Regions from separate parts of the Homo sapiens genome. Here region 2 is linked to region 1. The links come from fine-mapping of genetic effects on gene expression. Tissue or cell type: blood mononuclear cells. Region 1 holds a variant in brackets; the other region holds the start of a gene. All regions are shown on one strand. Distances are between the middles of the regions.

Region 1 (8,112 bases):
CTCTACCTCTATTCGATCAACTTTTTCAACTCTGACATATGTGTGAGAACGTTTGATATTTATCTTTTTGTGCCTAGCTTCAATTAAACCATTTTGGAAGAGTTTTGACCAGAAATTGCATGTAGCCATTTACAGAATAAAATCGCCCACTAAAAAATTATGTTGGAGATAACAAACTTAGAAATACATCAATATTTAAAAACAACTTTTCAGAAGTTTAAATCAGTATTTAGTATCTTCCCAAATACTATGTGGTTTTAATCATAATTTTGTAATATAAAGAAAACATTATGATTTTTTAAAATACCAAGCTTCATATAGATACTTTTACATCCCCTCTAGTTTTCCTCCAGAGTTTGGGACCATTATTTTGCTATGTGAGTCATAACCTGAACAAGGTGTAATGCATTATGTTAGGGACTTTTCTGTGCATAAACAAATGTGCATATTTGTTTGTGTATATACATACACACATAGACAGTCCCTAACTTACCATGGTTTGGCTTAACAAGTTTTGGAATTTACAATGGTGCAAAAGCCATAGGCATTCAGTAGAAACTGTACTTTGATTTTAAACTTTGATGTTTTCCTGGGCTAGTGATATATGGTACATGCTGAGCAGCAGTAGCAAGCCACAGCTCCCAGTCAGCCATGCTATCATAAGAGTGAAGGACTGGCGCTCTGCCGTGTGCAGTGTTGCCAGCTGATTTTGCCCAACTTTTGGCAAATATAAGCTGAACACATTTAGGGTAGGACAGGCTAAACTACGGTGTCATAAATGCATTTTTACTTAATGATATTTTCAACTTAACAATGGGTTTATCAGGATGTAACCTCATCTTAAGCCAAAGAGCATCTGTATGTGCAGACATTTATTATATTTATTTATAAAATGAAATCCATAAAGTCATATATTAATATATTTTGTATTTATTATATTATAAATATTTATAAAGTTCCATATTTTTACACATGTGAAATGACAGTATACATATAAAGCAAAGGCTGGCTCCTTCCTTTAAATAACTTTAATTATTTTTTTAGTATGCACAGTACTATGTTATTTTAAAAAACGGCAGCATAGTATTTTATATAGTATTCTATATTGATATCTTATAATTTGTCAGTCTTATATTAATAATATGCAGGTTGTTTCCAGATTTGTCTCTGCTATTACCAATAATGCTGCAATAAATATTTGTGCAAAAGTATCTGTAGACTGGATTCCAACAGTGGAATTGCCATGCCAAAGGCTGCGTGATTTAAAATTTGTTAGAGACTATCAAATTACTAGCAAACTTTAGCACTAATTTACTCTCTCACTTACAGTTTATGAGGGAGCCTCTTTTCCCACACTATTGCCAACAGTCTTAAGTTGTCTATCAGAAAGTTGAAAAATGCTACCTTCTTTCTTTCTTTAATTATGGGTCAGAAAATAAAGAGATATTATGAGAAACATAAACTCGCTTGCACTAAATAATTCAATCAATCATCATCTATAGGAGAAAACATAAGAACTTAATCGAAATTTATTTCTTAATTATTCTAAGATAAAATGAGGCAGTAAAAGAATAATGGGAAAGCTATCAATATAATAATATTTATGGGAAAACCAACTTTGCTTTTACTTCAAAAATGTTTTAACCATTATTAAAATGGATTTTGACAGTCAATATGGCACGTTGTAAGGGCAAGTTAAGGCACAAAGATCATGTGACTGAGAACCAGGGAACCTGGTTTAGAGTCTTACATATAATTAGTCATCTATGATAGTCTTATATACAATTAGTGGTATGATTTTGAGCAAATCATTGAACCCTATTTAGCCCTTCTGTGTCTATTATCTCAGGTGTGTAAGGTAAGGGGTTAGGGCCTCAATACCTTAAAAAATTGTACAAATGAAAGAATTTCTAAGTTCAATCGATATTGCTATTGATGATTTCCAAAATGAAAATCTTCCTATTCTAATCCTCCAGTAGGTGGTGATGTTATAACACCTCAAATAGTTACTGATCTAGTAACTTGGAATCTTTCTTCAAGATTCATTTTAGAAATATTCTTTTTCATTGTAGTAAAATTTTAATGTTATATAGAGAATGCGTTTATAAAATTTCTGTTACATTTAATGTACTCACCTAAGATATCAGTCAATTATTAATTTGTTCTTTTAGTGTCTATGGAAAAGAAATCCAAATTTAATTAATAATCTTAGGTGACATGATTTCCAATCTGTTATAGTTTTCTTAATTTAGTAAATTTTATAAATAGTTTGGTTTTAATTAATTGACTTAATTAGAAGACAATAAGTGAACAGAGATTGAACTTTGTTTATCTTACTTAAACTTGAAATATACTTTATAAGAAGATAAAGGAGAGCCTCAAATAAGGTCTCCAGCTATCTTGCTAGAAGATCACCTTTTACTAATTGTATAATTATAAAAAAAATCAAAGGCATCAATCAAAAACTTAGAAGTTCTCCAGAAGTTCCAAGAATTTATGACTAAGACCTCAAAAGCAAATGCAACAAAACCAAAAATAGACAAATGGGACTTAATTAAACTAAAGAGTTTCTGCACAGCAGAAGAAATAATCAAAGGAGTAAACAGATAACCTACAGAATGAGAGAAAATATTTGCAAACTGTGCATCCGACAGAGGACTGATATCCAGAATCTACAAGAAACTCAACAAGAAAAATCAAATAACTCCATTAAAAAGTGGGGAAAGGGCACAAACAGACACTTCTTAAAAGAAGAAAAACAAGTGGCCAAACATGAAAAAACTGCTCAATATCTCTAATCATCAGAGAAATGTAAATCAAAACCACAATGAGATACCATCTTGCACCAATCAAGATTTCAAACAATTCTTTTTTTTTAGGTTCATTTCATTTGAATTTAATTTTATTTATTTATTTTTTATTTTTATTATACTTTAAGTTCTAGGGTACATGTGCACAATGTGCAGGTTTGTTACATAGGTATACATGTGCCACGTTGGTCAAACAATTCTTTAAAAAATTAATTATGTACATTAATGACATGTAGTTAGAAAATAAATAGATAAAATAACAAAAGACTGCATAAATGGATAGTGATTTGTCTTGAAACATAAAATGTATATTAACAGAATATGATAAAACTTTAGTAAGAAATACAGAGGAAGATACTTACCATTATAGACTAACTATAGTAAAAATGAGAATACTGTTTAAGTTAAACATAGATTAAATGTAAATATTCACTAAGAGCCCCAATGGAATATTTTATGCAATGTGACAAGTTAATAATAAAAATCTCCTGGAAAAACCAGCAAAGAAGTACACAAAATAATTTTTTTGTGGTAATGATAATTGGCTTACTCTATAAAATTTCCAACACTTCATAGAACTTTTGTTAAAATTAGTAACTAGAGAACAATACTAAAGATGATAATTAACATTTAAAAAAATTAAGAAGGAATTACTCTGATAAAGATATTTTACTCCCCAAATATAATTTTACAGATGCTTATATCATGTAAGACAATTAATGCTAAAACACTTTTACCGGAACTGACCCTGGTGAATGCCACCAATGCATAATCAAACCCTGGTTCTTAATATGCAGGTTAGAAGCCCTAATTAGAGTTATATTTTTCTACTTAGAAAAAATTTTATGCAATTCTGCTTTATGTTAAAAAATAAAAGAATTAAGTTAGAAATGTGAATCACTTAGAGAAAAAATGGTTATACATTGTTTCCTTGACAAGACATAATTTTGCTATAAAAATTTTAAATAGGATAAGCAATAATCTGAGTTGATTTAGGAGGTATTGTCTGAATGAAGGATAGGGGATGAACTCAGAAAGTCTGCAAATTTCAATTTTCTTTCTTTTAAATAAGGAATGAATAAATCCTAGCTATCAAAACTCTAGCTATCTGAATACAGAAACCTAATAGACTTGCATAAGTGGTATCTAAACTCTCATAATCCAGACTCAGGAACTGAATTAAGATAATAATGAGATATACTATGATGGATTTAAGCACAATTGAAAGGAGAAAGGAGTCTATGAAAACTGGTCTACTTTTGCCAAGAGCAGAGCGGTCTATGTAGGTGAAAAATTGTTCTGTCTCCTGGGCACAGAGCTAGACTACTTTTCCTAGCCTGCCTTGATGTGACCGTCTGGGTGCAAGTGGGTTCAGCCCTCTGAGTTTGGCCTTTAGAAATCTTCTGTGATCGCCCATACTCTTCTTCCATCTCTGAGATCCATGCAGAGGAATTGGCCGAG[A/G]ACTCTAGGAACCTAGGGGATGGCAGAGCCGCAGATGGAAGGCGTCTGGACCCTTTAGCTGCTGCCCACCTCGAATATTTGTATTTAACTTTGCATGAGTGAAAAACAGATGTGTACTAAGATCATGGGATTTGTTACTTGCTCTAATGCATGTTACCAACTTTTTATTTCTATTTGTCAAAATACATTTTTTCTTAGTTGAAATTAATGTATGAAGCATATTTTATAGTCTGCTTTCTTCTTTCAACCTTTGCATCAACTTATTTTTGTATGTAAAGAATGTTGACATGCTAACAGTTTTGAACACCTATATTAGTATTTCATGTTGTTAATATTCTCTTGAATTACCCAGCCTCAACTGTTTTCCATTAGAATTCCACTTTTTCACCATAATAAATTATGCTATTCAATACTTTTGTACCAATTATTTGGGAAACTTATCCAAAATGAAATTATCTGGCCAAATAAATGAATGGTTGAGAAAGATAAATGTGGTCAGTGGCCATTACACACTATATAAATTCCTGAAAATCACTGAGCTGTGCAAAATAAAGCAATAAAAAGTATGATCCATGAAAACAATGATAGGTTGTACCTTATTAAAATTAAAAACTTCTGCTCTGCAAAACACACTGTTTAGGGAATGGAAAGACAAGCCAGACTTTGAGAAAATATTTGCAAAACATATATCTGATAAAGTACTGGCATACAAAATATACAAAAACCTCTTTAAACTCAACAAATAAGAAAACGAACAACTTAATTTAAAAATGGGCAAAAGACCTGAACAGACACCTGACCAGAGGAGATATAGAGATGGCAAACAAGCGTATGAAAAGAGGCTGAGCCTACCTCATTAGGGAATTGCAATTAAAAAAAGGTGCCACTACACATCTATCAGAATGGCCAAAATACAGAACACTGACAACACCAAATGCTGGCAAGGATGTAGAGCATCAGAAACTCTCATTCATTGCTGGTGGGAATACAACTTTATACAGTCACTTTGGAAGACAGTTTGGTGGTTTCTTATAAAACTAAACATACTCTTACCACATGATCCAGCAATCACACCCCTTGTTGTTTACCCAAATGGGTTGAAAACCTGTTCACACAAAAACCTGCACATGGGTGTTTATAGCAGCTTTATTCATAATTAGCAAAAATTGGAAGAAACCAAGATGTCCTTCAGAAGGTGATTAGATAAATAAAATATGGTATATCCAGACAATGGAATATTATTCTGCAATAAAAAGAAATGAGGTATCAAACCATGAAAAGACATGGAGAAATCTTAGGTGCATATTGCTAAGTGGGAGAAGCCAATCTGAAAAGGCTACATACTGTAGGATTTCAACTATATGTCATTCTAGAAAAGACAAAACTGTGGAGATAGACAAAAGATCAGTGGTTGCCAAGGATTGGGGATGGGGGATAGGAAAGGAAAGGATTAATAGGGGGAGCACAGGGAGATTTAAGTGAAGTGAAACAATTCTTTATGATACTATCATGATGGATACATGTCATTATATGCTTGTCAAAACCCATAGAATTGCAACACAGAGTGAATTCTTTTTTTTTTATTATTATTATACTTTAAGTTTTAGGGTACATGCGCACAACGTGCAGATTTGTTACATATGTATACATGTGCCATGTTGGTGTGCTGCACCCATTAACTCGTCATTCAGCATTAGGTATATCTCCTGATGCTATCCCTCCCCACTCCCCCCACCCGACAACAGTGTGTGTGATGTTCCCCTTCCTGTGTCCATGTGTTCTCACTGTTCAATTCCCACCTATGAGTGAGAACATGCAGTGTTTGGTTTTTTGTCCTTGTGATAATTTGCTGAGAATGATGGTTTCCAGCTTCATCCATGTCCCTACAAAGGACATGAGCTCATCATTTTTTATGGCTGCGTAACATCCCATGGTGTATACGTGCCACATTTTATTAATCCAGTCTATCATTGTTCGACATTTGGGTTGGTTCCAAGTCTTTGCTATTGTGAATAGTGCCGCAATAAACATACGGTGAGTTAATTCTAATGTAACTATTGACTTTAGTTAATAATGTATCAATATCGGCTTATCAAGTGTAATAAATGTACAGCACTAATGCAAGATGTTAATTAATAAAAGGGAAGCAAATTATATGGGAACTCTCTGTGTTTTCCATTCAATTTTTTCTGTAAAGCTAAAACTGCTCTAAAAAATGAAGTCAATTAATTTTTAAAAATACACACTAGTGGCCGGGCGCGGTGGCTCACGCCTGTAATCCCAGCACTTTGGAAGGCCGAGGCGGGCGGATCACGAGGTCAGGAGATCGAGACCATCCTGGCTAACACGGTGAAACCCTGTCTCTACTAAAAATACAAAAAATTAGCTGGGCGAGGTGGCGGGGGCCTGTAGTCCCAGCTACGTGGGAGGCTGAGGCAGGAGAATGGCGTGAACCCCGGCGGGCAGAGCCTGCAGTGAGCCGAGATCGCGCCACTGCACTCCAGCCTGGGTGAAAGAGTGAGACTCCGTCTCAAAAAAAAAAAAAAAAAAAATACACACTGGCAACAACAATAAAAACTAGCAACAAACACACATCACAAGGCTAGGTGTGGTGGCTCACACCTGTAATCCCAGCACTTTGGGAGGCTGAGGCAGGTGGATCACCTGAGGTCGGGAGATCGAGACCAGCCTGACCAACATGGAGAAACCCCGTCTCTACTAAAAAATACAAAATTGGCTGGGTATCGTGGCACATGCCTGTAATCCCAGCTACTCGGGAGGCTGAGGCAGGAGAATCGCTTGAACCCACGAGGTGGAGGTTGTGGTGAGCCGAGATCGTGCCATTGCACTCCAGCCTGGGCAACAAGAGCAAAACTGTCTCAAACAAACAAACAACAACAACAACAACAACAACAAAACACATCACAGGGCAAAAATGAGATTACAGGCCTGACACTCAAAATACTTCATGAGTGGCACACATTGATTTGACTCATAATGACTAGGAAGTAAATATTTTAAGTAGTTAACAGCAAATAAAAAAAAAAAACCTGAAATGACTAATGTTGGTGTGACAAAGAACACCAGGTGTATATATTCAATGCTGCTCATCTTTTAGAGTAATATGATGTACATAATAAGGGATGTGAATGGGTGTGGCTCACATGCATGGTGAATGGAGTTAGCTAGTAGGAATTGGAAGGGGGTATGTGTTTTGTGTATTCCTACAATTTAGTTCAGTTGGATGAAATATTCCTAGTGTTTCTTGCAGACAAAATCATGCATAAGAAAATGGGAAATTTGAGTAATTTTCCCAAATGAATAAGTTAATTAATTGTGCCAGGACAAATTTGGTTTTCAAAGCAAGCATCATCACACAACTGACTGTAGTATTAAAAGGCTTATTAAAACAACGGTCTTTGATTTCTTTCATCAATGTCTTCTAGTTTTCAGTGTGCAGGTCTTTCACTTCCTTGGTTAAATTTATTCCTAAGCATTTTCTTTTTTTGCTATCTATTGTAAATGGGATTGACTCTTCATTTCTTTTCAGATAGTTTGTTGTTAGTATACATTATTATACAGAAATGCTACTGATTCTTGTGCAACTTTGTTTATTAGTTCTAACAGTTTTTATTTGTGGAGTCTGTCTGCAGGTTTATTTTTTATTATTTTATTTATTTATTTATTTATTTTGAGATGGGGTTGCACTCTATTGCCCAGGCTAGAATGCAGTGGTGTGATCATGGCTCACTACAAACTCTGCCTCCCAGGCTCAAGCAATCCTCCCACCTCAGCCTCCTGAGTAGGTGGGACTACAGGTGTGTGCCACCACACCTGGCTA
Region 2 (8,112 bases), 390 kb after region 1:
ATGTTTTCAGTACAAAAAAATCAACATTAAAAAATTATATTAGGCTCTGCCTAAAGTCTAAAATAAAATAAATGAATATATGAAATGAAGATTTGATTCAATGTTTCCAAAATCATCATAATCCCCTCTGATGTACTTAAGTGATCAAAATGAATAAACCTCCTTTAACCTAAGGGAAAGAAAGTCACTTGGCATAGGGGGAGCTGTGCTGCTCTCAGAACACCTGAGCAACGAAGCCAAAAACAGACCCAACATTCTTTATTACTTCTAAATCTAAGACATTTTTATCAGAGTCTACATAGTTCAAAGAAGCTAAATGTGCCATCTCTCTCCTCAACCTTCCTAAAACAAGTGATCTTTAACAAGGTATTGTGAAATCTTAAAAGGTTTCCCCTGAAAACTAAAAGTGGCGTACCTTTTCTCATTTTAGACTCTTTGATAATCAAATGTTAACCACAAAATTCAAAGTATGTCAATGAGTTATAGAGAAGAGATTTGTTGACATCAAACCTGAAAAGAAGGTATGAAACACAAACACTTCCAGCAACTGAATGTACAAGGCAGAAGTTATTCCTCCTGGCATGACAGAAAGATTCATGGGGTCTGGAGACACACACACCTTGCTACATATTAGCTATGTGACTCAGATAAGTCACTTCCCTTCACTTGTATTATAGAAAGGGGATAACAGCACCTACTCTCTCTTAGAGGAGACACCACACCCACCATCAACCATCGAGGATTTTGCTGGTCCCAGAGCCAGCCCTTAGAGATAACTGTTATTATGAACCAGAAAATCCTTTTTCTGAGTGTACTAGATTTCTAGCCTTGGTGTCTGTACTGAATAGAATGAATGTATTTTTCTTGGATGAGTCATGACTTTGCAACACTTCAGTCTTCATCCTGAATATCAATTCTCACTGCATCATACCAGGAGCCAGAAGAATGATGCAAATCAAAGTAAATGAGAATTGGCCCTAGGAAGTTGTTTTCTTAAATAAATTCAAGATGCAAGTAGGTTTCTGATCATTTGTTTCTCTCTCCTAAAAAGTTAAGTATGAAAAAAAGTTCAGATTAGTTGGAGATCTCTAGGCTCAGCTGATCAATCTGACTCTACAATGGGAAAATAAAATAAAGTGAACAGTTTCATAATAATATTTTTACAAGCAATGTTTGTCTAGCACCTAAAATGCGATGGCTTTCAGACAGAAAAATGGCCAATAGTCTACAAATGTTGAACATATAAAGTACAAATTTAAAAACAAACTGTATTCCCAAAAAGATTGTTGGACAGTGTCTGGTTGGTAAGAGTATGTTTTGGGGGGCAGCAAACAATGGGATTGCTAAATTAATCCCTGGGATTCTACTAGACCATACATATGCCTCCTCCACCAGCCTTGTCCACAGCACCATCTACTGCCAAGCCACTGTGCCTACAGCAGTTTTGCTTCTGCAGGGCCCTAAGAGTTAATACCATGCCTTCGCTTAGCTAAGTTATTTAGGAATCACGATTTTTTAAAAAGTCACTTCAAAGTTAAAGGGGAAAGGAGAACATGAAATAAGAGTAAACTCCTGACAATCATTTAAAATATCTAAATAGGAAACACAATCTTTGGTTACTAACACATGGCAAATAAGTAGTTTTAAATAAGTGAGTTTTCTTATCTTAGCTAGTTAGGCTATAAATCCTGCTCTAAAATATTTTAAAGCATGAAAAAGAATTAAATGCTCTGGTTGTTGTATATACAGTAGACATATTTATCTTTTATCATCTTTTAACACTGTGAGAGTTACTTAACTCTGCTGTACCAACGGTTCTTTCCATTGGGAATTGGAAGTGGGATTCTAAACCTAGAGAACAAGGGAGTGCAGGGGAGGTAAGGAATGGGGTTCAGAGCCCAGGTCTTCCCTAATGTGGAGGCCTCTCTTTAAACAATTAGGCTCTTAAAGACAACCAGGTCTCCTTATGAAAGGCACCAGGGCATGACTGGGTTCAAGACTGATGTCTTGCCCTTAGAGATCCAATATATAAGATGAATTAAATCAACCCTCACCATGCATAAGGATACGCAGAGAAGCCTGTCAGTCATAGGCATAATAACAACCCAACCTCAGCCCTGATCTAAAATTAAAACCACAGACTTAAAATAGATCATGACCTAACAGATCAGAATTTTAAAAATCAAAACGACCATTTTCCAAACAGAAAATAACACATAGCTTGATAAGAAAAATTAAAAGTAATATTAGCTGACACCTAGAACTATATGCAAGGCACTGTTCTAAGCACTTTATGTCAGGCTAACAAGGCACCAACCACCTCTCTGTTCAATTAGTGACTTTACATGTACAATCTATAGTAATACTACAGATTAAATACCGTAGGGTAAACCAATGGGATGTTATCAGTGAAGGATTCTAGTTTACCATTAACTCACCTTTATTCTAGAATAACTATGCTTAATAAATAGCTTACCTGAATGACCAGGGGTTGTGATGTCACAAAAATGAGTACAAGAAATTAATACAAGTATCTTCCCAGAAATCACTACGTGTAAACTGGGGGGAAAATAATAAATACCTTCTTCACCAACAAAGGAAACGAAGAAAATGGAAGTCCTACTATCCATACTGCAAAAATGCTTATTCTACTATCATATTCCCTTTTGAGAAATAGACCAGTTACGCCAGAAGTGCAATGTTGTCACAGATGTGTGCCAGATTTTGCAGAGGACATAAGTTGGCTGTGAGGAAGAACACAGAGGTTGCCTATTTTTTAGGCAGGAAAGAAAGCCTGCACTTTTCTGTGTGTGTGTGTCAATAAATCTGAATAACAACTTGAAAGGGTTAAAAAGCTGAGCACCAGGTGTTTTCTTTCCACTTTCCAGAGTAATTTAAGCACACTGCAAAGTTATCTCCCTTCCTTCCCCACGAGCCAGCTTAAGGGAGACCTGTCACTGCCATTTACACTGTACAGCTCCAGCTCTAAACAATAGGAGGGCACCAGGCTGGGCAGCAGGCATCGCGGCTTCCCACAGCCTGTATGGGCTTTGTTGCCAAGTTATGAGCTCCGCTGGGTGATGGAGACACGAGTGAGCCAAGGAGAATTTAATTCTATTTCAAATCTGTATGCTTTCAAAGAAAATAGAGACAATTGAGGCCACGGGAGGAGCTGGAGGGGGTAACCAAAAACAAACTTTCGGAACCTCAGAATCTACATTTCTAGCAGTAATTCTCAGCAAAGGATTAGGTGGTATTGATACTCTCATAAAGTATTTAACACCGAGATTAGAGACCATTCAGGAGCGGTGGCCGAGCGGAGTCCCCATCCTTCGTAGTCCCACTCCTCCAGCAGCAACCGGCGGCGCGCTTTCGGAGCCCACCTCCGCTCCGCAGCGCGGCCAGCTTCCCCCCGCCCTGGCTCCAACCCCGGCTCCAGCCCCGGCCCCGTGCCCAGCCTCCTAGCCGAGCCCGGGACGTGCAGCCAAGCCGAGCGCAGAGGGGGCGCGGGGCAGGCAGCGGCGCTGCGCCTCCCCCGGCAGCCCAGAAAGCCGGACGGGGTCCGCCTGGGCCAGTGAGGCCGGGCTCAACGGAGACCCGGGCCGGGCGGGGAAGCTGCAGGCGCAGAGCCGGCTTAGCTCCGCGCCGCCTGGCCGCGCGCAGCTCCCGCATTGTCCGCAGTCGGGGCGCGGCGCGACCACTGAACCCGAATCCCAACCCCCGCCCAGCAGTCTCTCTCCCGGCCCCCACGGCCCAGTCTTACCTGGGCCGCTCACCCCAGTCCCTGGCGGTGCGGCCCGAGCCGGGAGCCAGGCTCCGGGGGACTGCAAGGAGGGAGAGTCGGGGCCCGCGAGGGACGAAGGGCCGAGAGCGGGCTGTAGGGGCCGCCGAGTGTTCACGGTCGCCGCCGCGGGGCCGCGGGTAGAGAGCAGACGGGGCTGGCGGAACGGGCCCAGGACGCGCGGCCGCGAAGGGCCCGGCTGGCGGCGGCCGCGATGGTTCGGTCTGCACCGAGTGGGAGGGCTCAGGCAGGCTTCGCCGGAGAGTGAGGGAGGGAACTTGGAGCCAGTTGCTGTGGCCGAGAGCGCGTGTCCCTGAGCCAGTGTACACGCCCCTCGTACACCCCGCCCCGCCTCCATCCCGCCCCCACCCCACCTTCCGGGTCCCCACCCTTCTCGCACCTCCACTCCAAGCCCTGCCTCTCTCTCAACATCTCCACCCCGCTACTGATGCCCATCCCACCCCATCCCTGACCCACCCCCCATTCCACTCGGTCGGCGCCTCCATTTCCTCCCTATCCCCCACTCCCACCTATGTCCGCACGCAAGCACCCCCACCCTGCTCCCACCCGGTGATACCGCTGGATCTCGGACTGCCACCCCAGTGCAGATCGCTCAGCACTGGAGACGTAGAGCCTGTGCCCTGAATGAGATAACCCCACCTGGTAGTCCAGCCATCCAAACGTCTTGGTGCTTGACATTTTCTGTTTACTAACTTTCATATACTCAGATGGAGCGTCCTAGCTTAATTTCTGAAGGCATTTTTAAGACTTCAAAAAAATGTTTGGAGAAAATAGTAAATAACGAAAAATATCAAGCATGATGTACTACCTCTGAAATGTGGGCCAGCTGATGTTTTAAAATGAAATGCTTTGGGGTGCGTCATTATTAATCGCCTAATATAGTATTTGAGAATACTTTCTGCTTAGATTTGCTTAATAACTTGGTTGTTTCAGGAGAGGATTTGTTTTAGGAAGACTAAACACATTGTAATTTAATTTTGCTATTGGGAAGTCTAAAAGATAAAATCCATCTTTATCAAAATGAATTTGAATGGGATATGGACTCACAAAATAATTGTTTCTTCTAGAAAATATTGAGCAAGGATTTCTTTTTAATCTCTGGTACATTAACAATACGATTTCACTCATCTCATTTTCTCAGAAAGATCGTTTATATTTGAATTGTGCTTCAATTCAATGAATCTATTGTTTCATAATAGTTAAGAAGTTGCCAACTAAATAAAACTCAGACTTTATAATAATATATTTTTTTTCTATTTAAAGATTACCATTTTAAGAAAGTGACATGATACTGGGATTTAAATGGAACTTTCCTTTGGCATACTAATACATTCCTTGTTATCACAGATTACGTTGTGGTCTCCATTAACTCCAAAAGTCATATAACAATAGAAATAAACTATTTTTCATCATTCCCATAGCAAATGGAACCAACTTCTCTCCCTCTCAAGTATACTTTTTTTCCCCACTTCTTTGCCCCAATCCCTTCCTTTTAGGAATTTCCCCCTCCCATTGGGTGTGACTAGCCCACAGAGCTTCCTGACATTGTGAGGGATATGACCCAGGCCAGCCAATTAGAATATCGTCTGAGAACAAAGGAGGAGGGTCCTTTCCCTGACTGACAGGGCAGCTCCTGGGACCATATCATATATGCGTGCAGCAGCTGGAGTCAACTTACTGGAGAATAAAACAAAACCAGAAAAAAAGCCAAACTGAGCAATGGAGACAGAAAAGTGCCCTGATGACATCAATGGCCATCCGAAGACAGTCACCTCTAAAACCAGTCAAATCCTGAACTTCTGAAGTAATGCACCAATAAATTGTCTTTCTTGCTTATGCCATTTTGAGTTAAGTTTCTTTCCAGAAGACTCACTTATAAAATCATAAAAGATTCCCCTATGATCGATGCTTTGAAAATCAGGAATGTAACCAATGAGTTTTAGCTTTCTTTCTTTTTTTTTTTTTTTTTTTTTTTGATGACAGAGTCTCACTCTGTCACCCAGGCTGGAGTGCAGTGGCATGATCTCCACTCACTGCAACCTCCACCTCCTGGGTTCAGCAATTCTCCTGCCTCAGCCTCCCGAGTAGCTAAGATTATAGGCACGGGCCACCACGCCCAGCTAATTTTTGTATTTTTAGTAGAGACGGGATTTTGCCATGTTGGCCAGGCTAGCCTGGAACTCGTGACCTCAGGTGATCCACCTGCCTCAGGCGCCCAAAGTTCTGGGATTACAGACGTGAGCCACTGCGCCGACCAAGTTTTAGCTTTTCTATTGCCTAAACTACTTCTTGATAATAAAGTATATGCCAAGGAGTTCACTTAGTAGGACCCCTAACTCTTATTATTAAGGTTCTCATTTAGGGTTTTACTATTGCCCAGTGTAGATTTAATAGCCCCAAATTGTCATCACCAAAACCAAAAACCAATAAAAGATGTGGTTAAAGAGACAGAGAGAACACAGTAAAACATCTATGCTGGAATATTTCAGTAAATATTGTCTTATCAATTATGCCAATAAAACTGCTCTCATAATCCCTAATGTTTGCTGATTTAGGACATAGTTTTCTTGTTTTGGGGACTGAAAATGTTAAGGACTGCTACAGATTTTCAGAGAATGTTGAAATTAGTTGTTTGTACTAGAATTTTATTGTGTTGTTTATTCTTCAGAAGTGGGCCATTATCCTAGGCTTGGAATTCTTTTGTTTCACAGAGGTTTCTGTCTCTAAAAGTATGTAACAATATTTGACTAGTACCCAAACAAGCATCCATACACGAATCAGAATGTAATTTAACCATTATTCACAGGTGACTCTGGACAGTGGGACTATTCCTAGCAAGCAGGGAGCCTAGGGACATGCAGTTATTAGCTCTAATCCTCTGACTGCCAAAATGGTTTCTTACGGGAAAATGTGAGCTTGAAAAGACATGAGCTCAGAGTTTTCACTAGTCTTTCTCCAGATGGGTACGTACCTAAGTTGTGTCAACAACTAGGGAAACTTTAAATGTATAAAAGCCCGTAAGCTGAATAATAACATATTATAAACAGATGCAAGCCTCACAAAAGGAGAGCATCTCTGAAAACAAAACAACCAAAGCAGCTTCAGAGGAAAAGTAAAAAAATAAAGAGTTCTGGAATCCAGTCCCCGCTCCAAGTGGCACTTGTTCTAATGATTGGCTATGCCAGGGAAAATGTCAGTCAAATATCCAGAGTACCCCCAGCATGCCTGTATTGGATCAGTGGGATGCTTGTACCCATTTTCTTGCCTAAGAGTGGTACAGCAGTCCCTCAATTAACCCAGGGTCAGTCAGACCACCCTGTCTGTCCAGAGCTCCCCCTGAAATCCTGGCATACATCAGCGGTTTTCAGACCACGAAACACAATCACCTGCAGTACTCCCAACTAATGCCAGGTCTCTAGGTTGAGGGAGAACGGATAGGCCTGTGTTGTTTTTTTTTTAAAAGATCTGCCCAAGAGATTGTAGCGATCTGGCAGGGCTAAGGTAAACAAAGTCTGTGAATCTGTGCTCTTAATTCCACAGAAAAAGACTTGAGAACCCCTCAGCCCTCAGATCAGACTCCATTGTCTTAGAATTGTATGTAAAATTAAAGTTATTGATTGAACAAGCTCAATTTGTCTTTTCCCCTTAACAACCATAGTTCTTCTGAGGAAATAGAAAAAAGCAGCGAGGAATGCACCTTAGGAGGAGCTGGAGGATTTGCTAGAAGCAATCACACTGAAAAAAGGCAGCTCACAGCAAGGCTGAGATAAGAGAGTCACTAAATAGAAAAGCATTGTCAGTTGCTGGACTAAGAGGCCACTCCACTCCATCCTGGGCAACAGCCCCTGGGGGTTCCCTCATGTTGCTTGTTTCTCAGCGTAGTGCATGTTCAGGCTGGCGACCAGAAGATCAAAACGATCGAATTATGTTCTTGAATGCTGACCTCCATCATTTAATACTAATAACTACCATTTATTGAAACTTTGTGCTAGCAGTTTATATGTTTCATTTTCATTTTCAGTGGTCACAACGGCCCTAAATGTACATAATATTGATTACCATTTTATGAACAAGAAGTTCATGCCCAGGAAAGAGACAAATCCAAGATCACAGAGTTAGTGATTAGAGGACTTAAAGCCTGGCCCATGTGATCCCAAAGCCTACATATCTTTACTATAAGCCAAGCTTGCCAATGAATCTCACATATTACCTATACAATAAGAGAGCAGTAGTCACATGAGGCTATTGAAATTTAAATGAATTAAAATTTTGTGGAATTTACATTCATTACATTAAGTTAATTAATTAAT

The links. PIP is the estimated chance that this variant, and not a neighbour inherited with it, causes the effect.
Region 2: FAM110B starts here. The variant in region 1 is fine-mapped to the expression of FAM110B in blood mononuclear cells (TOPMed, PIP 0.98).

Annotation. Positions count from the first base shown.
Region 1 is chr8:58,382,747-58,390,858 of GRCh38, reverse strand. No RefSeq gene overlaps it. Among named protein-coding and RNA genes, the nearest start is that of UBXN2B, 25 kb to the left of the region's middle. The variant A/G (reference allele first, on the strand shown) is at 4,272.
Region 2 is chr8:57,990,458-57,998,569 of GRCh38, reverse strand. It overlaps FAM110B (family with sequence similarity 110 member B), which reads right to left and starts at 4,047. Exons shown (of 4, transcript NM_001377989.1): 1 at 3,764-4,047. RefSeq lists an enhancer at 3,096-3,596 and silencers at 3,601-3,650, 3,671-3,720.